Regions from separate parts of the Homo sapiens genome. Here regions 1 and 2 are each linked to region 3. The links come from fine-mapping of genetic effects on gene expression. A gene starts in region 3. Each other region holds a variant in brackets. All regions are shown on one strand. Distances are from middle to middle.

The links. PIP is the estimated chance that this variant, and not a neighbour inherited with it, causes the effect.
Region 1: its variant is fine-mapped to the expression of MICAL2 in unexposed skin (GTEx, PIP above 0.99).
Region 2: its variant is fine-mapped to the expression of MICAL2 in whole blood (TOPMed, PIP 0.97).

The regions. Positions count from the first base shown.
Region 1 is chr11:12,044,142-12,052,409 of GRCh38, reverse strand. All of the region lies in intron 1 of LINC02547 (long intergenic non-protein coding RNA 2547), which reads right to left. Among named protein-coding and RNA genes, the nearest start is that of LINC02547, 17 kb to the right of the region's middle. The variant C/T (reference allele first, on the strand shown) is at 3,292.
Region 2 is chr11:12,257,954-12,265,953 of GRCh38, reverse strand. MICAL2 (microtubule associated monooxygenase, calponin and LIM domain containing 2) reads right to left here. Exons shown (of 28, transcript NM_001282663.2): 25 at 7,398-7,486; 26 at 6,057-6,159; 27 at 3,417-3,474; 28 at 2,169-2,394. The coding sequence ends at 3,434. Among named protein-coding and RNA genes, the nearest start is that of MIR6124, 98 kb to the right of the region's middle. The variant C/T (reference allele first, on the strand shown) is at 3,003.
Region 3 is chr11:12,105,742-12,114,009 of GRCh38, reverse strand. It overlaps MICAL2 (microtubule associated monooxygenase, calponin and LIM domain containing 2), which reads right to left and starts at 3,420. Exons shown (of 28, transcript NM_001282663.2): 1 at 3,284-3,420. RefSeq lists an enhancer at 2,811-3,514 and a silencer at 3,057-3,726.

The DNA of each region.
Region 1 (8,268 bases), 62 kb after region 3:
GGAATCACATCACTTAGAACCCCGTGTCCATCCTCGCACCTCCTTCTCTGACTCTCCTGCCTCCCTCTTCTAAGAACCCTTGTGATTACGTTAGGCCCACCTGGATAATCCAAGGCACCCTCCCTCTCTCCCAGTCAGCTGATGAGCACCTTAATTCCACCTGCAACCTTAAGTCTCTCTTGCCACGTAACATCACATAGTCAGGATTGCAGGGATTAGGGCATGGACGTCTTTGGGGGCAGGGAGGATCATTATACCTACCACAGGGCTAGTGTCTCTTGTTCCCTGCTATAGCCCCAGTGACTGGAACAGTGCCTGGTTCATAGTGGGCCCTCAAGAAAGACGTGTTGAATAAATTCATGAATAAATACATGAATAACCATTAGGAATACTATTTAAGGCTGGGTACAGTGACTCACTCTTATAATCTCAGACCTTCGGGAAACCACGGTGGGAGGACTGTTTGAACCCAGGAGTTCGAGGCCAGCCTAGGCAACATAATGAGACTCCCAGTCTCTACAAAAAATAAAAAATAAAAAATTAGCCGGGTGTGGTGGGGTGCACCTCTAGTCCCAGCTATCTGGGAGGCTGAGGTAGAAGGATCGCTTGAGCCTGGGAGGTAGAGGCTGTAGTGAGCTATGATCACACCATTGCACGGGGTGAGACCCTGTCACACACAAAAAGAGTAAATTTAATATTATAGCAAACAGCTATCACGCTTACTAAGTGCCAGGCACTGTTCAAAGTGCTTTACAAATATTTACTCATTTAATCCCCAACAGTTCTATGACGTACATTTTGTTATTATCTGCATTCTACAGATGAGGAAATTAAGGCACCAAGGAGGAGCTCGCCCAAGGCGCCACAGCTAGTGAGTGGTGAAGCTGGGATTTGCTCTCACGTTTACCGAGCCTACCTATTATGCATCCGGCCCTGGCTGAGCATGTTACATTTCTGATCTCATTTCATCCTCAGAGAGGCCATAAGGGATGTGGGTGGAATAGGAACAGAATTAACAGGCACAGAATTAAGTCACTGGAGCAGCTGAGGAACTCTGAGAGATTCTGTGGCTCAGCTGGGGCAATGAATTGTGTATTGCTTTTTGAGCCTCCTTTGCTAATTAGACCAGGGCCCACCCCCGCAAGCAGACCACAGGTGTCTGGGTTCCCACCATGATGTGGGGCTCCTGCCTCAGCCCTTGCTCCCAGCTTCTGCCCCTAACCGTTGCAACTGGTGCCCAGGCCGCTGCAGATGGCAGCAGGCCATGACCTTCACCTGAAGCTGGACCTGGCAGGTCTGCCTCCAGGAAACCTCTTCCCCAAGGGACAGGAACTGGCTTCAAACCTCACCCAGAGCTCAAGTTGCTTTGCCCTTTTCACTGATGACAACCGTGGGGACCCCCATAGCTGGGCCCTATTCATATTTTGCACATCCTGGAGCTGTTTGCTCTCTACATGCTGGCCTCGGCCACCAGCCCTGTGACAAGCTGCCCCTCTGTGATAAGCTCCCCACCCAGAAGCATGCCCCTAAGACCACAAGCACCAAAACCTGCAGGAAGCCCCTAAACATGGCCCCCAGTTCCCTCCAGCTCTGCAGGGAGAGTGCTGCTCAGGCAGGGAGGGGGAACTGCGCTCTCTCACTTGCATCTTAACCTTTGCAATCAAAGCCAAGAGGAGGGAAACTCTTGTGCCTGCCAGCACAGTGGGGCATCGCATTTTCTGTTCCTGCCAGCACATTTTTCTAGGTCAATGTCAGATCAGGGAAATCCAATACTGCATGTCCCAACGTTTTATTTGAAAACAGAGAAGTTGCTTTCCAAAATAAATAGCGTTTACAAGTAAAGCCTGGAGAAGCCTCTGTCAGAAATGGACTCTGGGCCCAGGCAGGATAGACGTTTCCTAGTGGCTTTGATTGATGTAAACCCAATGTCAGCCCCAGCTCCAGGCCTAAAAGGAGAGGCTGGGCTGAGGAAGAACACGTGTATATACACATACGTATTGATGTGTGCCCGTACATATGCATTTGCATGTATCCTTAAGGGTCTCTGGGTATGATTAGCATGAAGAGTAAGTTGGGGGGCTTATATGTGTGTCCTTATATGTGTTTATGTGTACAGGCATGTGAATGTGACTGTGTGTGCCTGTGTATGTGTGTGATGTGACACCCAGCCCTGTTTCTCAGACACCCAGTCCTCTTTCTAGACACCCCCTTCTTCTCCTCCTTGTACCTGTTCTTTTTCTTTTTTCTTTTTTTTTTTTTTTGACACAGAGTCTCGCACTGTCACCCAGGCTGGAGTGCAGTGACGCGATCTTGGCTCACTGCAACCTCCGCCTCCCAGGTTCAAGTGATTCTCCTCCCTCAGCCTCCCAAGTAGCTGGGATTACAGGCCCAGCTAATTTTTTGTATTTTTAGTACAGACAGGGTTTCACTGTGTTGGCCAGGCTGGTCTTGAACTCCTGACATCGTGATCTGCCCGCCTTGGCCTCTCAAAGTGCTGGGATTATAGGCGCGAGCCACCGCACCCGGCCCCTGTTCTTTTTCTTAACTGATTAAGGGGCTGGGGCTCAGATCTTGACACACTGTGACAGGCATTTCCTCTGCTCTGTTTCTTCTTGGTGCCTACCCACTGCTCCTTCCCAATTTGATGTTGACTTGTTGTGTAGACCAATGGAGTCCAGTTTTTGGTTACTGTGTTAGGACCCAGCAATTTGAGCCCAGGCTATGTTAACAGCGCTCTGTAAATGGTACCATGCACTGCCCCGGAAGGCCGCTGGTGTCACTTCTCGCTGACGTCACCCTGACTGCAGGATCTCCCTCACAGACCTCCGACTTCTGCTGTCAGTGCAATCCTCCCCAGGCCTTGCCAGTTTCCATGCTCAAGGCCCCGCCTGCCTGATGACCACCTGTCTCATTAAACTTAAGCAACTCAGCCTGGCTTCCAAGATCTGAGTATCTTCTTAGCAAATTCTCTTCTCAGGAAGTGTGTCCCCTTCCTGAGCACCTCGGCCAAGCTGCCCCATACTGTGTTAGCTCTGGCCCCTCCCTTACCCACCTCTGAGCATTTCTTTGCTCACGCTGTTCCTCTGCCCTCACACCATTCCCTGCTGCCACTTCTCTCTCATTGGCTCTGCCGGTCCAAACTCTACGCTGTTTCAAGACCAGTTCTAATCTCACCCACTTTCTCTACGAGGACTTAGAAGAGCCTCCCACCCCACACTACTTTCCCATCAGACTCTGGCTCACGGGATGACACACTGCCCTGTGTGTTGCCTAAGAATTGTTTTCAGGTTG[C/T]TTCATGGGCCTTATCTTGCCTTCTGACCTAGATTGCAATCTCCTTCTAGGCAAGAATCAAGCCCGGTGCAAGAATCAAGCCCGGTGCTGCCTTTGAACGAGATGTGGAACCCGACACAGGTCTGGACACAGTATAGCCAGGGGATGAGGGCTTGTGGGTGAGTGCACGCAGAAAGGCACACTCGGCTGGGGCGGTAAGGCCGCAAAACTGTGTCCTAGGCACTGCGTTTTGTGATTTATCTGTCTTAGCTCATCTAATAATAACTGTGGCGGCAGGGTGATATTATCCCCAGTTTAGAGATGAGAAAACAGAGATTGAAAGAGATTAAGTGACTTCTCTGAAGCCACAAAAGTAGTCCAGTTGTCTCTTGCTAACTGTGGGGGTTTGGTTGCCTGATCCCCTTGAATACCAAAGTCTGCGGATGCTCAAGTCCCGTGTCAGCCCTGCAGAGCCCTTGCATAGAGGACACTTTGCTTGTAACCAGCAAAATCAGGGGTTAATCCTAGGTGGGTCTGACTGCCTTTCTCATAACCTTGTAACAACCATATCCATGGGAGGCAGCATGCTAACAGTGAACTCTCTGAAATTCTAAAGCACACCCTACCCACAAGAGATCAGAGCAAGTTCTAGGGTGGCACTGTCCAACAGAACTTTCAATGATGGAAATGTTTATTTCTGTGCTGACATGAGAGCCACTGGCCACATGTGGCCATCGAGTACTTGAAATGTGGCTAATGAAGTAAAGAACTGGATTTTAAATTTTATTTTATCTTAATTTGTTTATTTATTTGAGACAGGGTCTTGCTCTGTCACCCAGGCTGGAGTGCAGTGGCGTGATCTTGGCTCATCGTAGCCTCAACTTCCTGGGCTCAGGTGATTCTCCCACCTCAGCCTCCCAAGTAGCTAGGACTATAGGTATGCACCACCATGCCCGGCTAAGTATTTTGGTAGAGACAGGTTTCAACAAGTTGCCCAGCCTGGTCTCAGACTCCTGGGGTCAAGAGATCTGCCCACCTCAGCCTCCCAAAGTGCTGGGATTATAGGTATGAGCTACCACCCCCCAGCCTGCTTATTTAATCTTAATTAAAACGTAAGTACTGTGGTCACATGTAGCTAGTGGCTTCCATATTGGATAGTGCTTCCCAACCACGTCCATGTCAAGTCAACATAGAAAATACTAATTACGCAATAATGAGACTGTTTGCTGCCAGAGGCAACTGGCTCAAGGGGTCCTGCCTTCCTGACCCCACCTAGCCTCCCTCAACAAATCTGTAGGCCACTTTAGGCACACTAGCTCTTCACAATGGTCAAGCTTCCTGCCAGCTCCCAGCCTCTGGGCCTGGAACACCAAAGTCATTGTGATCGTAAGAAATGCCAGCATAGGAGATGTGCAGGACCTTGTCAGTTCTTGCATGGTGTCCTTTCCTCCATTCCACACACAGTGCCTGGCCCTGGGCAGGGGCTGGGGTAAAAAGAACTCAGAGCCAGCCCTCACTAAGCACTCCCACGAGGCCATCTGATTCATATGCCCCAAACTGTTCTTTTTTGGCAGCACTTTGGCGCCCCCTCCTGGGCATCCTGCAGAGTTCAGGTGCGCATAAATTTGCCAGGAGGGGACAAGGACTTGGCCCTGGGACTGACCGCAGGGCTGTCAAAGACTTCCAGCCCCCCTGGCCAGCCAAGTGAGGGAATGCCTGCCCTTTTTCCAGGCCCAACTGGGGCAGCTCTTTTTCCTGCAGGGAAAAGGCACTTTACTGGCAGCCCTGGGGAAGAGGCAGGGGAGGCAGCTGAGTCTGGAAACGGGAGCATTCCAGAGCCCAGGCCTCTAGGCCCCTGTGCACTCTTCACACTGTGCCAACCCTGGATTTTCAGAGAGAAACCAGAGAGGATGGCTTGGCAGAGGCCCTTTTGGAGGTAACTGGGAAGCAGGAGAGGATGTGAAGTCAAGGCTGGTCTCTGAAGTGGAGGAGTTGGCCACAGGGAGAGAGGAGATAGGAAAGGACTTTGCAGTGGAGGGGGCAGCCAGGGAAAGCCCTGGAGGAGAAGGGGAGGGTGATCACCAGGGCATTAAAGCGGTCAGCGTGGCTGGAGTGGAGAGGTTGAGTGGAGATGAGGGAGGTGGTGAGGCTGCTGAGGTGAGGAGGCTGAGGTAGGAGGATCGAATGAGCCCCAGAGATCAAGGCTGCAGTGAACCGAGATCATGCCACTACACTCCCACCTGGGCACTGGAACAAGACCCTGTCTAAAAGAAAATGTGAAAACCATTCTTAGCTCTTAGGGCATACAGACACAGGTGGCAGGCAGAGTTTGGCTTGAGAGCTATAGTTCACTCACTCTCATTCTATCAGAAGGTGCCTGGATGGTGCATGGACAGGCCAACCCCTCTCCCACCCTCCAGCCTTTCCCCATCGCTTCACTTTCAAGTCTCATGCAGCCAGCCAGCCAGGTTTAAACACCACCTCCTCCAAGAGGACTTTTCTTACCTTCCCAGTCCAAGTTAGCCTCCCCCACTGTATTACTCCATTTTCACACTGCTGTAAAGAACTGCCTGAGACGGGGTAATTTATAAAGAAAAGAGGTTTAACTGACTCACAGTTCCACAGGCTTAACAGGAAGCATGACTGGGAAGCCTCATGACACTAACAATCATGGCGGAAGGCGAAGAGGAAGCAAGGACCTTCTTCACATGGTGGCAGGACAGAGAGCAAGGGAATCTACCACACGCTTTTAAACCATTAGATCTCATGAGAACTCACTATCACTAGAATGGCAAGGGGGAAAACAGCCCCCATGATCCAATCACCTCCTACCAAGTCCCTTCCTCCACACGTGGGGATTACAATTCTAGATGAGATTTGGGTGGGGACAGAGAGCCCAACCATATCACCCATCAACTTTGTGCCCCTTATAAAGTTACTGACCAGTAACTTACTGACCTCTGGGTGTGTATATGTGTGTGTGTATATATGTTTGTGTGTGTGTGTGCATGTGTGTGTATGTGCATGTGTGTGTTTGTATGTGTGTGGATATGTGTGTGTGTGTGTATTTGTGTATGTGTGTGTATTGTGTATATGTGTGTGAGCGCCTTTCCTTGCACCAGCCCTGTGCTGTGCCGTGCAGTAGCCACTAGCCACATGTGGCTATTTAGGGCTTGAAATGTGGTGAGTCCAAATTGAGATGTGCTGTGGGTGTAAAATACACACAGAATTTCAAGCAGCATAGAAAACAAGAATATAAAATATTTCATTAATTTTCCAGCTCTTAGGGAAGTTGATGAATTTTAATTACTGAATTTTATTTTAATTACATTTTAAAATGACAAGATATTGGATATATCTTATTAAATGTATTATTATTAAATTTATTTTTATGGTGTTTCTTTTTACCTTTTTTTTTTTTTTTTTTTTTGAGACAGGGTCTCACTCTGTCCCCTAGGCTGGAGTGCAGTGGCATAATCATGGCTCACTGCAGTCTTGAACTCCTGGGCTCCAGCAATCCTCCACCTCAGCCTCCTGAGTAGCTGGGACTACAGGGCACACCACCATGCCTGGCTAATTTTTATATTTTTTTGTGGAGACAGGGTCTTGTTAAGTTGCCTAGGCTAGTCTTGGACTCCTGACTCCAAATAATCTTCCCACTTCAGCCTCCCAAAGTGCTGGGATTACAGGCATGAGCCACCACACCTGTCCTTCTTATTTTTTATTTTTTTGAGACAGGGTCTCACTCCGTCACCCAGGTTGGAGTGCAGTTGTGTGATCACAGCTCACTGCAGCCTCATCTTCCTGGGCTCAAGTGATCACTACCTTAGCTTCCTGAGTAGCTGAACCTATAGGAGCGTGCCACCACACCTGGCTGATTGTTTTTTATCTTTTGTAACAACGGAATCTCCATATGTTACCTAAGCTAGTCTCCAACTCCCAGACCGAAGCGATCCTCCCATCTCAGCCTCCCAAAGTCCTGGGATTACAGGTGTGCACCATCACGCCCAGCCAGCCTGTGAGTTCTGACAGCAGCTGTGCTGGGTTCATTGTTGTCACTCCAATGTCTAGTGCACAGAGTAGGAGAGGGAGGGGACAGGCACAGGGATGTCTGAGGGCTTCCCACGCACCAGATGCTGTGTTAAGCCTCATCCATCTCGTTTTGTCCTCCCAGGAACCCTGTGCCAGGGATGGTGGCGTGGCAGCAAGGCGGAGAGTAGGAGGGCTCATTTAGGCCCCAGGCTACGGTCAGGGGTGAGGGGACAGGTAGAGTCCTCTCTGCTTTGTAGGCCTCCTGGGTTTCTAGACAAGAGGACACCACCCTCCTGCCACCACTTTGCATACTTCCTGGGTCACCGTCTTCCCAACTGGGGCTCAGCCATGGCCATTGTGAAATTTGTTCTGTCTCCTCTCAGACTCTGCCTCCCACTCCCATATCCAGACACGTTCCTGCTAGTGACAGCCACATGACCCTCCCAATAACCACACGCCCAGCCTGGCAGCCTTCCTGGGCCTCAGGAGTGTGGTAACTTTGGAGAAGGGCTTCTGACTCAGGCAGCTGAGCTTGCTGCCAGGTGGGGACTGGCTCTGGTCTCAGTGTATCTCTGGGCCCCTTCCCAATCCCAAAATGAAAGTCCCTCTTCAGGAGTGTAACCATCCAGGAACCAGCCCTCAGCTCAGCACTGGGTAGTGTCTGCTCATAAAAATGGCCACAAGGTGGCACTGTTCCCACAGCCATTCCCTTCCCCCACGGCAAGACCACGGGTCACACCTGCATCCAACAAAAATATTACAGCTTTTGGAAGAGGTTTTCCCTGGACTGGTTGGTGAATTTCATTCTCAGTCTTCAGCTGCCAAAGGTTGTTTAGACTCGGGAATTCTGCTATAAAAAATGGTCATCTCTGAGTGCACACTTAAAAGTCAAGCAGGTTATGACTCATTGTCAATCCCCCTGCAAAGGAATTCTGTCCTGAGAGGCCTCGTGCACGCCTGACACAT
Region 2 (8,000 bases), 150 kb before region 3:
AGTAGAGACAGGGTTTTGTCGTGTTGGTCAGGCTGGTCACGAACTCCTGACCTCAAGTGATCTGCCCGCCTCAGCCTCCCAAAGTGCTGGGATTACAGGTGTGAGCTACCGCACCTGGCCCATGTGCACCATAATTAATTTACTTCCTTTAAAAACCAAGTAGGAATACTTTTGTAAATGCTTGCTTTTTCTTTTTAGTGTTTACTTTTAAAATTTGCTTAAGGGTAAATTGCCTGTTCATAGCCTTTGCCTATTTATCATTGACTCTTTAATCAACAAATATTAACTGATCATCTACACTATGAGAGGTGCCCAGGAACATCTGTTTTAAATGAACCTTGAAAATACCATGCAATGAACTTCTTTGTTATTACATTTAGTTCATATTTTTCCCTAGTCTAATGGTCTATTTAATATTTTATTACTCTACATTAAGTTTTAAAAATGTATATAATCAGATTTGTGTCATGTTTTCCCTGTGTGGTGTTCTTCCTATTAGAGGATTTATGCTTAGAAGGTTATCACCCCATATCTAATCAATACTTAATTCCATTTAATATTTAATTATATGGTTTTCCTTTTAAAATTCTAAGTCTTTAATCCAATATCTCTGAATTAAACACTAGTCTACCAAAACTATGTATGTAGAATGCAATATTCAAAAAAAGCAAACCAAAACAAAAACAAAATGTTCACATAAGTATGGGACAGCTGACTTTCACAAAGTTGATTAAACTTCCCTACAAGGATGCCTCAGAGACTTGACATGCTAATGAATCTTGCTAGTCTCCAGGACGGGGGAGGACTGGCAAGATCAGTACAAAATATTCCTCAAATGTTGTGATCATGGACTCCTTTGTTGGTGAAGCACCACTTGGGGTGTCACGCTTTGACAATAAAGTGACGATTTTTGTCTGCTTTACTCCCTGCTGTATTCCTAGTACATAGTAGATGCTCAGGAAATATCACAGAGTTGAGCAAACAAATGAGCACATGCACAGTTAAATATAACAGATCTCATCTAGTACAGCAATACTGAGCCACATCTCTAAGGTGCAGGGAGGTGTGGGGACTTCGCATGGTTCCCTGCTGTACCTAGGGCTTAGAATAAGGCCTAGGACAAACATTTGCTGAATAAATGAATGCATAAAGGAATGAGTCACTTGCACAGCCCAGCACCTGACTTACAGTCCCTAACATCCCTCCTTAAATGGAAGTGGGAATATATCACCCAGGTAAGAGTACAGAACCCTTGGTCATGACCTGAGGCAGCTCTGAAGGTAGATCCAGGCATCAGAGACCAGAGCCTCAGGAACACCCATTTGGAGGTGCCAGGGACCTCATGAGGTTCACAGGTGACTTTTCATACCACTGTCAGAAGCCCAGCTACGCCCAGCTACGCCCAGCCAGGAAATGGCAGGCATCCCACCCAGGGGAGGCTGAGGACCAGATGACTTTGGCACTGCCCAGGATAGCCAAGTGAGGCTCCAAATCTTTCCCTTAAACACAGCCTGGAGTTGCCTGGGGCCTGCCATGAATACTATACTTCGGGTGGTGCTAGGGCAGGGCCTCACACCATAGATACTGAATACCCTGAGCCTTTGGGACAGGAGAGGTCTCTTAGGATGGCAGTGGCTCTCCATCTGATGAGCACACTGCCAACTTCATTGCCATCCTAATATTGATGCCCAGTCCTTCCTACTTACCTTCCACTTGCCACTCAGCTGTGCACCAGCGTGAAGTGTTCCAGACCAACCTTTGCTGAATAGGAACCTAAATTAGTGTAAGGTTCATGGGGAAAGCTCTCCTGTAGAGCCACGCTTGGGTGTGCGGGGGAAACGGGTAAAGGTAGCCATCAATACAGTCTGCTTCTAATCGCTGAGGGGACACTGACCCTCACCCACTATGCCCAGCATCTAGAACAGCAAAGTACAATGAGTGTTCAAGAAAGAGATCCCAAAGCCTAGCCCAGGAGCATTGGTGACAGTTTCCAAATATTACCCAGGGGTAATATTTCCTTTCAGAGTGCCCAGCGCAGCCCCAGAGAGTCCTGTGTTACCTCAAGTGCAAGTCCCGCCAGCAGTTTAGGGAAAATGAACCCCCTACACCAATCCCTGTGTGTGAGGTTTTAGAAGCTTCCACGGCAAAGAAGAGAGGAAACAATGAGCTTTATAAAGAACAATATTTATTTCCATTTACAGCATCAAATACCATAAATAAAGCTAAACATTGTTTGTTTTGCTGTGTGCAAAATACAGGGTTCCGTGTGGCACTGTAAATGATTACCAAAGGTCACAGACATGCGTTGTGATGAGATGGGGAGGCTAGCTAAAGAGGAGGCTGAGAGGGGAGGAGGGCACTCTTTGGTTGACATTCTATAAAGGGAGGGAGACTCTGTAAGAGAAGATAAGACAAGAGCAACGACTTTGTACTGGCCAGGATCTGCACAAATACAGTGAGCGTGCAGCATGCAGGGCCAGGCAGGCAGGCCCGGGGGTCAGGGTGGTCTGGGCCACATGCAGGACAGACGCCCACCGCAGCCTGAGACCGCGAGTGTTGCCTAGGACAGCTCCACGGTGCTTGGTGTGTTGTTTCTCGTTAAGAGTGTGTTGGTGATTATCCTGCTGCCCCAGGTACAAGAGTCAGCAGAAATGTGTGCTTTAAGCAGAGTCACAGGGGCCTGGGGCTGAACTGAGTCATTTCTCAAAGATATCCCTGCCTGGGATGATGATGGCTCTAATTGAAGCTCTGGCATCATCTGGGGCTTTATGAGCCAAGGGAGATAAGAAGAGCCACAGCAAAACCCTTGGGTCTACAGTGCAGGCTGCAACCAAGGCAGCATTTGCTAGAATATTTGTGATTATGTGTTCAACCTACAGAGCATGTGTCAAGCTTGGGATGAGGCCTGAGAGTAATTAAGTTTTTTAAATCCCTCCAAATAATCACCTATGGTTTTGATAAATGACATTAACAATCTTTACATTAGAGCCAATTTAAGAAGG[C/T]GCTGGTATGTATGAGCTTTTTGAGGCTGCTCAAAAAGTGTTCTTTTCAAAGGTGACAGAGGCCCCCTCATGGTATTGTTTCATGATCAAGGTCGACCCTCCCAAGAAAGTAGGTAGCTTCGCAGACGCAACTGGAGAAGCATGCACGCAGGCAGACCCAAGGGAGAGAGGAGAGGCGGGGCATGCACTTGGGGTAGACCAGGCTGCCAGCTCCATGGGAAATGAACACAGGCATGGGTCTCAAGCTGAACACCCCCCGCCATGCTGTTAGCCAACCATGCCACCAAATGAGTCCATCAGTATGCAAGACACTCACAGTTAGTGCAACCAGTACTGCTGGCGGAGAGGACGGGGTGCGGAAAGCGGGTTGGGGGTTAGTACCACTCTTTGAAAATTGGCAAGAAAACCAGTCACCTTAGAGCAGAAGTGTGTCAGCCAAGAAGTGGGTGTAGCACTGGAAGGCTGAAATGAACTGATGGCCATGGCGTAAGATTGGAAAGAGAGAGAAAGATAGAAAAGAGAGCTTAGTGTGGGGAAAAAAGGAAATGATTAACATCACGAGAAGGCACCGGAGTTGAAAATAAGGCCACGATTGAAAGAGGGAAACTTCCTCTGAAAGAGTCGCTGTTTGCTTAGGAGAGATGAACCTTTCTGGTTGTGACCAGCTACTTGTTTACGAGAGTGGATGCACACAGTTTGCATCTTGCTCCCTGATATCCTCTCTGCCCCCATTTTACTCTAGCGTCTCCCATTCATTCTTGAATATGTTGCGGAGGCCTAGAGGCATTCATCCTCGGGGGTCCACCCCTGGGTGTCGGTGCTGCCCACCAGAAAGGTTCAACATCTCAGAGCGTACAAACATCTCAGATTTCTGACAGGCACGCCCTGTCTCGCCACAGTAATTCAAACCAGTCTCCTTATGGCTGTACACGACAGTCAGAGATTCCGACTCGGGCTTCATGGAACACTCCACAAAGCATCTCAGCCTATCCTGAGCTGAAGATAATCACAATAACATGGCCGTTCACATCATGACCTCAAAAATTTACTTTCTATACTCAAACAAAAGGAATCAAGGGTTCCTCCCACCATGCTGAACATTAAAATCCCAGCAAAAATTGGAGAAAACACAATGCAAGTCATCGGACTGAGAACAGTGCCAACAAGGACAGAGGCGCCAGTTCCCACAGAGTTGGCCACGGCCATGCCTCTGTTTTTCCCAAGGATTTCAGGGAAGTGTTTGTAGAAATGCACCTCCTTCTTCCCGCCCCATAGAAACTGTCATCTCAAAGCTCTCAAAGGTTCTGACTCCTCACCCACACCCAGGCACACCTCTTAGTTAATCCAGAGGCATCTCTAGTGATAACTCCACAGAGCTATCTTGGGCCCAGCAACTCCAGATACACTGCGCACCGTAGATGGCCTTTCTCTGGCGGCCCCTTGATTGTTCAGCCAGACCCTGCAGCTGTGTATGTCTAGGCAGCGTGGAGTAGGGAGAGCTGAGGACTCTTCTAGATACCCAGAGTAAGAACACAGGTGGACCTGCATGCTCATTTTTACCCTTACTCATGCATATGTCCTTTGGATCAGTCCATAAATAGCTTCCACTCCCAGCCTTCCCTGCCAGTCAAGATATGGTAGAGCTTCCCCTGGAGGTCAGACCCATTCCTTTCCCAGGGCAGTGTGAAATTGGTTTCTGTTTTGACCACATATGTGTGGCAGCGGAGCAGCTAAGCAGTCAGGATGTCCACAGGCAATGCTCACTGGGCAGGCCACGCTTCCCAGCAATAGCCTGATGTGCTAACAAACCCCCTCAGTCCCAAAGGACACCACATAAGTGGACAGAGTCTTCCACTCCACTTGGCCTGACCAATATGGACCCTGCACAGCCTTGGCTCAGCCTGCAGCCCGGGCTGGGGGATCCGCTGGGAGCCACAGGGGCTAAAATGCCATCAGTTGAAAGAGCTCATCTTTGGCACTGCATCAGCTCCATGGTCAAATGCCAATGGGCTTTCCCTGCAGTGCCCATTAGTGGGAAGGGAAAATGCATGTTTGTAGAATCTGTTGAAACCCCACGGTTCTTTGTCATTTGGCTGTGAGTTGGTATGGGGGGGAAAGCCTTTAAGCTACTGTTTAACATCAAAACAAGGGAGCAAAACAGTCCTCCTCCCAGGGGGACAGATAACAGCCAACCACACACTGCTCCGTGCTTCTGTAAGTTGAATTCTATTCTGCCCTTCTACTCTCTTCTTCTAAAATAATTATGCTTTCGTGTTGTAAAAAGTATCCTGCTGCTGACAAGTGGCATCTGGGTACCTAAGTCAAAAGGCACTGGTCAGGAGATGGCACACTCATTTTCATGCGTGTAAAATCTTAAATCATCCACTTTGCAGGCAGTGGCTTTGATAACTCACTGCAGTGTTCAAGGGGTTTATAAAACTGGTTATAAGCTTCAAACCCATGTTTAGAAAAATTGACACTCATAGAAAAAAATGCTTTCTCTGGGCTAATTAAAATTAAAAAAATTGAAATGTAAACCCAGAAGTATGGCTCACAAAGCTATAGAAAAGATCCTTCATATCATCCCTGGCCCTAGCACCGTGAGTAGATGTTCACCCTGATAAGGCCAGGCGGAGGTGGCCCATGTGAAATTCTTTGGCTTTGAGCTAATTGCTTAGAGAATGCTAGGCTTCCTGGCCAGAGCCTGAGCAAACTGCAAACGCACTGCCATCTGAAGCCTCCCTGGAAATGTGAAGGCACTTTGGGGCAGCCAGCCATGTCAGCGGAGCTTGACTGGGAAGCACCTGAGCACCCAGTTGCAGATGCTCTCGAGGGAGCCCTCAGATTCCCTGTACATGGCTGCCAGGACCTCAGAGAACGCCCAGAGGAGTGGCAGCCCCAGGCTCAGGAGCTCGTACATGTAGCAGTAGTTGTAAGCATTGTCCCTGATATGGAGGCCAGCAGCTTGCAGGAGTCCCTGCATCCAGTTACACAGGTCCCTCGGCAGCCTGAGGGGCCAGCCCAGCACCTTCCTAAAGAAGGAGGTGGAGATACCTGGGGGGCTGCCTTCCAGGGTGCCAATGGCGGCCACTGCGCAAGAACTTTCGGTGGGAGTGTCTCTCCGAGGGGCTTCCTGCTCTTGCCATGTTGCCTCCTCCTGAGAAAGAGATGGAAATGAGGGCATTTGTCTGTAAGTCTTCCAGAGGACTACTTCAACAAAGCCAACAGCCAATACAAACTGAACTCGCCAGACCCTGCAACCAGCCCCCACAATAATCTCAGCCCCCCGACTCATGCTGAAGCCGGTGCTGAACACGGGCACTTTTCTAGGGGCCAACTGACCATAGGAGTCACGAGCCTTCAAAAATATGCATGCCTTTTGATCGGCAATCTCACTCCTAATGATATACATCAAGTAAATAATTTGAAATATGGATAACAACATGCATACTAGCATACACTGTAAAAACATTTGTAAGATAAAAAATTCCAACGACGTAAAGATCCAGTAATACAGAAGTGGTGAAGTAAATTATTGACCATTTATAGACTAGAATCTTCCAAAGGCATTAAAAATTATGCTCCAACATAAAAAAATTTAATGTCATGGGAAACTATTCTTGATATACAGTTAGTGAAGAAAAGGAAGAATATAAAACTCTAGGCATAGGATTCCACTTTGGTTAAAATACATTCACATAGAAAAAAAGCCTGGAAAGGGATGTTACAAAATGTCAACTGCGGTTTTCTCAGGGTAGAGTGGTTACAGGTGATTTAACTTTGTTTCTTTATATTCTTTCCTTCCCATGTTTTTACACTGAACCTATATATTTGGCTAATTAGAAAAAAGTTTTAAGTTATGGGTTGTTGCTAGTGGTAGATGATTAATCAAGCCCGAGAGAAGATATTTGCTAAGAGATGCCAGAAGAGATGCTTCCACAAACCATCTATGAATTCAGTGGGCTGGTCACTTTGTTGACTTCGAGAGCCTGGGAGAGGACTTGGAAAATGTAGAAGGGTCGGTCCTATACCAGGCATTCTTGCAAACAGCACCTTGTGGCCAGGTGGGTTCCAGGTACAGAGGGCCATGTGGCTTTTGTGTGGCTAAGCATATCACCCCATCCCTGCCACATGGGCAAGCTCTTCCAGGCTTCTTATGAGAAGCCAGCATGGCTACTGTCCTGGGAGCTCATCTGGAATGGGACACACCCCAGAGGCTGTGGAACAGACTGAAGCAAAAGAACCCTCCACACCAGGAAGCAGAGGCTTTCTTCTTTATCTGTGAGTCATCTCAATCCCTCTAGGGCCAGCAAAGCTGGCCTAACTTTGAGGATCACTGGAAACCCTTATCAAGGGGCCTTCCCCGTTTCACCAGCATGTTTGAGACAAACATACCTCTCTTTGTTGCTTCAACTCTGCCCGTCTCTTCCGTTGTTTGCTATTGGTTTTACAGTGAATGAAGTGAGGCTTGCAGTAAAATTTGCCTGTAAAAAGAGGCACACACATACAGAAAAATTTTTCTCCTGTAAACTAGAGCTAAGTAGACAAAAGCCAAGTGCCCACCACTGTCCAAGTCAGAAAATAGTAACGATGGAAATAGCCCAGGGTGGCTCAAACTTGGGAAACGGCTTCTGTCACCTTCCTTAAAGAAGTGGCACTGAGATAAGGTAGGAGGGCCCTTTGCTGCCTCAGAGACAAGCTCCAGCAATGGGGGGCTCCCGGGGATGTGGCTAAGACCTTCAAACCATGCCGGCTCCCGTAGGGTGGCATGCCCGCACCCGGAGAGGGCATGGGAGCTCTGAGCCCCTTCTCCCATACCACACCCCATGCCTCTTTTCCATCTGGCTGCTCCTCTGCATCCTTTATAATAAATAGGACAACATTTAAAAAAAATCCCCAAATCAAACTGAGGCCAAGTTTCTTCATAAGACCGGTTGCCAGGCAGCTAAATGGACAGCTTCGAGTATGAACACCCTCAGTCTTTCTTTGTGGAATACC
Region 3 (8,268 bases):
CATAAAAGCTAAGGAAATACAGAGCAAAGAGCACAGAGGATTTGCAAAACCAGAAAATAAATCTGCCAAGTTTCTGAGTGTTTTAAATGCCATTTCATAGTGAGGTGAGAAGACATGTTCATAAATAATTACAATATAGGGTGAGAAAGGGTAAGTACTGTAGCCCCCCCTCATCTCAGGGAGATACATCCCAAGACCCCCAGTAAATGCCTGAAACCTTGGATAGTACCAAACCCTATATATGCTGTGTTTTTTTCTATACATACAGGAGCGATTAAGTTTTCTTTACAAATGAGGTACCTTAAGAGATTACAACATTAATGATAAAATAGAACAATTATAACAATATACTATAATAAAAGCGATGTAAATGTGGTCTCCGTCTCTCTCAAAATACTATAATATTTTCAGACCATGGCTGACTGTAACCGAAACCTCGAAAGGTGAAACCGCGGATAAGGGAGATGACTGCGCAGCAGAGGAGCTGTGCCTGCCAAGCCTCCAGAGTGCAGAGACAGCCACAGGCTTTTCCTGCTTCCCATAGCATTTAATTCTCCACACTCAAACTGCACTCATACATGCTGTGTGATGCAGGCAAGTTGTAACCTTTTTTGTTGTTGTTGTTACTAAAGACAGCAGTCTTGCTACGTTGCCCAAGGTGGCCTTGAACTCCTGGCCTCACATGATCCTCCTACCTCAGCCTCCAAAGTGCTGGTTTTACAGGCATGAGCCACCACACCCGGCCAAGTTGTAACCTTTCTGGGTCTCAGCTTCCTCACCTGTAAAATGCAGTTAACCCCACTTCTTTAGAGGCAGAATGAAACAATAGAATGATGTAAAGAATGAAACATCTCAGCATGATGAACAGTATTCTCTTCTCTGACTCTTTAAAGAATAGAGACTGTTAGCCCTCAGAGGACATCTAGGATCAGCAATGTTTAACCAAGTTATTCTTTTACCCTTACCACGTCCCGTCCTGCCAGAGCCAAGGCTTCCACCAAGAAGACAAGACCTCTATACTTCAGCAGTGGGAAGCAAAGGGGGCAGGCCCATGGCTGGGAGGCAAACCCAGGTGTGGGTGGAGAGAACAGAAACATACCCCAATTATAGGCAGAGAAGGAATCTGGGATCATATGGCTGCTCCTTGCAGCCTGGGAATGGGCCTCCAATGGCCACAGCCACAACCAGGCATAGTTCTTAAAAGCTGATTTATACTAAAGTATAATGGATTGGTATCAGTTTTCATGATTTTCATGACATCATGAAAATAAGTCATGAAAATCATGACTTATCATGATTTTCTTTTGAAAGAGGGGATGAGCAGAAAGCCAGAGCCCTAGGCCTAAAGGAAGAAGGGGCTGGAGATAAAAGTGATGTCATGTTTTTATAGAGGTATGTTCAAACTGGATTTCAATTACCCCACAACCATAACACTACACCCCAACACCTGCCCCCCCACCCCCAAAAGCCCCACGAAACTAGAATCAGTCCTAAGGTAGAGGTTATTTCAGCTAACACAGTCCTCCTAGACTATACCAGAAGCCAGCTTCTCAGAGGTGAGGCCAGGTCAATGGTAGAAGCAGGCTTCCTTCCAAAATAGCACCCAATCCCTCCCCATAGCAATCTGGCCAACACTATCCACTACTCTTGACTAGGGGGAGGATAAGGGGTTTGCAGGTTGAACAACTTGGCTAACCTGGGTCACTTCAACTGTTTTGCCAAAGAAGCATCCCCTGAAATCCTGGTGGAGAGCATCTTTTCAGAGGCTGGAAGGCTCTAGTCAGCACGCTGTGGGGCCATGGTCCTGCACACAGCACACCACTTCCCACAGCCATGAAACAAGAGCACTGGACTCACACTGACAGGGCCAGGACCTGGCTCAGACACTTGTTGTGTGACCTTGGGCACCTACCATACCTGAGCCTCTTTCCCCATCTCTAAAATGGGGAGGGCAAAACTCTCAGCGTTTTTGGAATAACCATGAAATTGGCTGCAAAAGTGCCACAAGACAGGACCTGTTGCCCAGTAGGCACTTAATAAGTCCGTCTTCTCTCTGCATGAAGAAAGTGAGTTCTTACGGTATTAGAGTCTCCAGGGCATTGCACAGGACTACCCTGGAGACCGGAGGCCCACTTGTTGGGTCGACTGCCACTGGGGAGGGGGAGCAGGACAGAGTAAGTGCAGGTGTCAGGGAACCTGGCACAAACACTGGAGGGCCAATTCGCCTCTGGCTTTTCTCCCGTGGGACCAGCCCACAAGGGGCCTGGCTGGTGACTTCATCCTTCACCAAAATCATTGTAGACTGTAGTTAACAGGCGACAATCACAGCAAGAGAGCCGGCACACTGCTGTAGGCCTGGCGGGGCCCTACAGGCTTCCAAATAAAAGCTCTTTCCGCTTTAAGAACCCAGGCCTCAGAATAAACAATGTGGAAGGAGGCACACTACTCTGGTTTCCACATCCCCTCATCCCCATCCAGTAAAGGCCGTTCCCAGCTCTGCCAGTGAGGCTGGCGGTGAATACAATTTACCCCACCTGCCCCGTCTGGCCCGGCAGCGGCTTAGACGCTGTGGGCAAGATCCCACCTCTCCCCGGGGCCAGCCAGGCACCTACAGGGTGGGTGCCGCGGACACCCTGCGGGGGTGCTCCTGGGCCTGGAGCGAGAGCGGGCTACTGGGGATGCGGGAGACGCGATGCAGAGCGGACAGTGCCGCGGCCCCTCGGACCACTGCCACGACCCCATCCCGACTGGGCTCCAGCCCGCGGCCAGCCAGGCCACTGACATTTGGCCCAACTTAACTTCCTGTTACTAAAGAGGGAGGGGACAGGGGAGGGGGAAAAGGGCGCCCAGTGAAGAGCTGGAACGGGGCGTGCAAGGCTCGGAGCCCCAATCCTGGGAAGTTTGGGGATGGTCTTCTGCCAGGTGACAGGCAGCACTGCAGGCGCGTCACTCCCACCCCGTTTTGGCGCTTGCGATTTTCTAGGCTTGGAACTGCAGGGTTTGGGTGTTGCGGAGCGGAGTAAGAGGTAGTTCGGCGTGCCGGTGGGAGGCTTTTATTGCGTTCTAATTGGTTCAGAGGCCGGCCAGGGCCGCCCCGGGCTTCGTCGCAGCGCCACCTGCTCACTGTGCGCCCCGCCGGGTGGGTTTGAGGCGGGGGATGCTGCGGCCGCACCTGACCCTCCCGGGCGTTGGACACGGCGCAGAGTCCAGCCGAGGCTGGCACGGTCCCCACCCGCGCCCGCCCGCCCTCCCCACCCTGAGGCCAGCGCCGCCCCCGCCTTACCGAAAGTCGCGCGGGCTGCCCGGCCCCGGGTCAGGCCTGCCTCGGCCCTGGCCGCGGGCGCAGCGATCGGGCCCCGCGGGCCACTGACAGAGCTGGGAGCGAGCGAGGCGGCCCGGCGCAGGCTTAGCCAGCCGAGCGCCTGCGGTTCTGCGCCGCGCGGTGGACCGGGCTGGGGAACGCCCCCGACAGCGGCGCGGCCAATGACAGGACAGCACGGAGCCCGCCCCGCCCCCGTGGGGCCGGCTGTCACCGCCGCTGCCGCCGGCGCACGTGGGCTGTAGCCCGGCCCAGAACGCAGGGAGTGGCCGGGCGCTCCCACCCTGACCCGCACAGGGCGGAGACCAGGGGAGGGCTGCTGGGAGTGGGGCGTGGTGGCGCTGCGAGATGAAACCCCCGGTGTTGGTAAGCGGGTATCAAGGGAGCGGCGAGGGCCTGGGCCTCACGCTTCTTGGTCTAGGCGGCTGGAAAGCAAGACACGGCATCCCCTTTTGGACATGGGGGAGCAGCATGGCACTTCTAGTACCGACTGTGTACGTCCTGTGGACCTCCCTCTTTGCTCGGCTCCTTGACCACCCTGAGCTTCCGCAAACCTCCTTGCTAGCTAATAGGATCTTCCCCTCACCTGGCCTTGCTTGGCTAAAGCTAGTGGGAAGGGGGCGGTGGTGCAGACTACCTGTGTTACCTTGGTCAGATCACCTAAACACCCTCTACCTTTGGCTGTCATATCCCTATCTTAATCTCTGCTCTGCCCACCTTCCCGGGTTACCCTTACCCCCCACAGCTCCAGAGAGCAACATTCACAGACAACACAGTGTGAATGGAGTGGGGCCTAGTGAGCAATCAGAAGCACTCTGTAGACTATAACTACTGTAAAACACCTTGTGTTTAAACGGCTCTTGTAGCAGTTATCATGAAATGGGGATCTCCATGGGCAGGAACCATGTCTGACTCACCTCTGGAACCCAGGGCCCATCACAGGGCTTGGCCCGGTGTAAGCATCAATAAGTGTTCTTGGAACTGAGCTACCTAGGCAGAGGAAAACAGGCAGGCTTGAGCAGTGAGAAACAGTATTGTGGCTCCAGGCTGCTGGAATTTCCCCAGCACAAGACCACCTCCAGGAGACACCATGTTCCCTTGCCAGACAAGTGCAAACAGAACAGTTTGCCTCCCCAAACCTGCAGATTATTATTATTTTTTCTCTACTCTACTTCTTGCCATGTGATCCTACTCTCAGCCCTTTGGTGTTTACCAGGTATTGTCCTACCTGGCAGCTCTCTTAGCTCTCTCTTCAGAATTCAATCAACTTCCTGTAGATGAACTTTCCAGCAAAAGCTGTTCCTACCCAGTTTGCAAGGCCCAGTCAGCTTGTACTCTCAGAGGGCCAGCACTCCACTCTGATGGAAATCTGCCTGTGATGCCAGCCTGGGGAGTGCCCTTCACACGTGATCTCATCTAAGCCTGGCTTGACAGGTATGTATTGTATCATCATCCCATTTCACAGATGTGGAAACTGAGACCAGTGAGGTAAAGCAACTGGTCAACATCACATGGTTAGTAAGTATCAGAGTCCGGATTTGAGCCAGATCTGGTTCCAGAATCTACATGCCTAAACACTATGTGCTGGGGCCTCTACAGCACTGCCCATGCCTCTAGGGTACTTGACAGGTCAAGTCTAACCCTGAAAGAGCTGCTCTAGGCCTGACCCACTCCCAGTCCATCCAAACAGTCTGTCAAGCTCAGGCCAGGGCACTGTAAGGGAGAGGAGACTCCACTGGCCTGGCCCTACCTTATTTAGAAGAGTGATACAGGAAACCCAAGGCAGTGAGGAGCTTCAGGAAGCAGTGTTACATCTGTCCCCACCTTAACTACACTGGACATAAAGCCTCTTGCTATTGGCCTGGACCTGAGACACCCATGTGGTGGATAGAGATGGAGACAGAGTCATTCATTCATTTAACAAACCCTACTCCGAACCAAATGTGGTTCCTGCACTCATGTAACTTATAATGCAACAGATGAATAATCAGAAGTACACAATGCTGTCCAGACATGGTGGCTCAGGCCTGTAATCCCAGCACTTGGGAGGCTGAGGTGGGCAGATCACCTGAGGTCAGGAGTTCAAGACCAGCCTGGCCAATATGGTGAAACCCCGTTTCTACTAAAAAACACAAAAAATCATCTGGGCATCATGGCACATGCCTATAATCCCAGCTACTCAGGGGGCTGAGGCAGGAGAATTGCTCGTACAGCGAGACTCCATCTCAAAAAAAAAAAAAAAAGGAAGAAGAGGAAGAAGAAGAAGAAGACCACAGTGCTTTGGGAGCTGTATTCTTTATTACTCTTTTTTTTTTTTTTACAGTTTTATCACCTTACCAATAGCACAACATTCTCCCTTCAGATTAAAACAAGCTTAATGCTATTTCAGGAGCACTGTGGGCCAACCAAGTTTAACAAAGATAGCATTGCTCAGCACAGAAGTTCAAGCAACTTAAAAATTAGAACTTACCAATGCATTCCCAGAACCTCTGCCTCCTCTCCCCTACCCTACTCCCAATCTTTTTAACTCAGGGGGCTCAGATAAGAAAGACTCTTGCTAGGTGGGTGCATCTGAGGGCTGAGAGGTGAGCTTTTCCTTGGACGCAGGGCAACCTGGGAACTGAGAAGGGTTAACTGCATGGAGGGAGATAAACCTGGGGACTTCTTGAGCCAGTGGCCAGAGCCACTCACCACCTCACACAAGCCACCCTTGCTGACCATCTTCCTGGAGAGAGAAGAGGAATGGGTTAAGGATGTCACAACTCACCTTCCTCTGGACTAAGCAGTCACCATGGGATGTCCTGCTGGGCTGTGACTATGTCTAGGAGTTATACAGCTCAGCTCTTCAAATGAAAGATCTAAAGTTAGGGCAAACTTTAGAGGAATATTTATCGAATCCCTTACCTAGCAGATGAAAGAAAAGAAGAGGCCAGGCATGGTGGCTCATGCCTGTAATCCCAGCACTTTGGAAAGCTGAGGTGGGTGGATCACTTGAGGTCAGGAGTTCAAGACCAGCATGGCCAACATGGTGAAACTCCGTCTCTACCAAAAATACAAAAATTAGCTGGGTGTGGTGGCACACGCCTGTAATCCCAGTTACTTGGGAGGCTGAGGCCAGAGAATTCTTGAACCCAGGAGGTGGAGGTTACAGTGAACCGAGATCACACCACTGCACTCCAACCTGGGCGACAGAGCAAGACTCTGTCTCAAAAATAGAAAAAAGAAAGAGAGAGAGAGAAAAAAGAAGAAGGAAGGGAGGGAGGGAGGGAGAGAAGGAGGGAAGGAGGGAGGGTAGAAAGAATAAGGAAGAAAGGAAGATAAAGAAAAGAAAAAGAGGCCGGGTACAGTGGCTCATGCCTATAATCCCAACAGTTTGGGAGGCCGAAGCAGGTGGATCACCTGAGGCTAGGAGTTTGAGACCAGCCTGGCCAACATGGTGAAACCCCATCTCTACTAAAAATACAAAAATTAGCTGGGCATTGTGGTGTGCATCTGTAATCCCAGCTACTCAGGAGGCTGAGGCAGGAGAATCACTTGAATCCAGGAGGTGGAAGTTGCAGTGAGCCGAGATCGCACCACTGCACTCCAGCCTGTGCGACAAGAGCAAAACTCCATCTCAACAACAACAACAAAAAAAAAAAAAAAAAAAGAAAGAAAAGAAAAGGAAAGAAATGGAGGCCCAGAGATAGAAGGATGCTTCTGATGGTCACAGAGTGAGTGAATAAGTGTGTTCCAGGCATGCAATGTCCCTTTCTCACTCTTAGCATGACAGGCAAACTAACTCAATATCTTTATGAAGCAGGCTCAATAGTCTATATTTAATAGCCACCTCTTCCCCAGGCCACTTTTCCAGGATGCTGCTTGTGGAGGTTGTCTGGGAGATGCAGATGGCCACTTAGCACGAGAGGGAGGAAGAGAAGGAAGGCCCAGATTCATCCCTAAATATAGCTTCATCTCAGACGGAAGCAATGGCCTCCACAGCACTATGCATGCCTCCCCCTGAAAGAACCCAGCTGGTGCTCGCGGGCATCATCGTTTATCCACCTGATTGTGTTCAGAGGACTGTGGGGGTGGCAGTTCTGGCTTCCTTTTATTTCCAGCCTAGCAATATGCTTGAAGAGAGGTCAGAGTTGAACTAAGTGGACTCCTGATGGAGATTTTCTGTAATGAAGCCAGGGTGCCCCTCAAGATATTTGAATGGCAGAGAAGACAGTTGCACCGGGCTCTGGATCTCTTCCTGAAGGCCATAGATTCCAGAGAAGGGCAAAACAGTGAGTGTGGTTCTCACTGGCTTCCTCCCCAAGCTGCTATCAAAGTGCTTTGGTCTTTCGGAAGGAAGAGGAAGGCTGGTATCTAGACAGAGTCCAGTGACCTGGTTAAATGATGAGAAAGGGCTGATTGGCCCCGGGCACCTTGGGAGCTGTCCTTGGAGGACTTTCTAAGCCAGGAAGTGGAAACATTTGTATCTCCCACAGACAGACTCAGCAGTATGTGAGAAGCAAGATCCCTGGGGCCTTGTTCAAGCTCTTCATCATCTTTATAGTCCTCAGAACAAACCGCTTGTTCACGGATAAAACATCTAAAAGTTTTCAAGGTCACTAAAAACTCATCAGGCCTACCTCGCTTTAAGTGGCTTTTCCAGAGGTGGTTTAGAGAAAAATGGCACCTGTCTGGGACCTGCTGAAGTCAGTAATGCCCTCGGAGGCACCCCAGCACTTTGGTGAATGTGTGCACGTTGCCAGCAATGGTGAGAAAGTCAGTGCTGGAGAGCAAAGAGCTGTGGCTGCAGGCAGGAGGTGACATCCCAGCCAGATGTAGCAACCAGAGCAAACAGCGATGGAGTGGGTGTGCAGAAGAGAGGGGAAGAAACATAGGGTCATGTAAGTAGTCTAGCTTTAGCCCCAGATAGACTGGGGATTCACAGACAATTGTGAATTCCAGGGGCATAA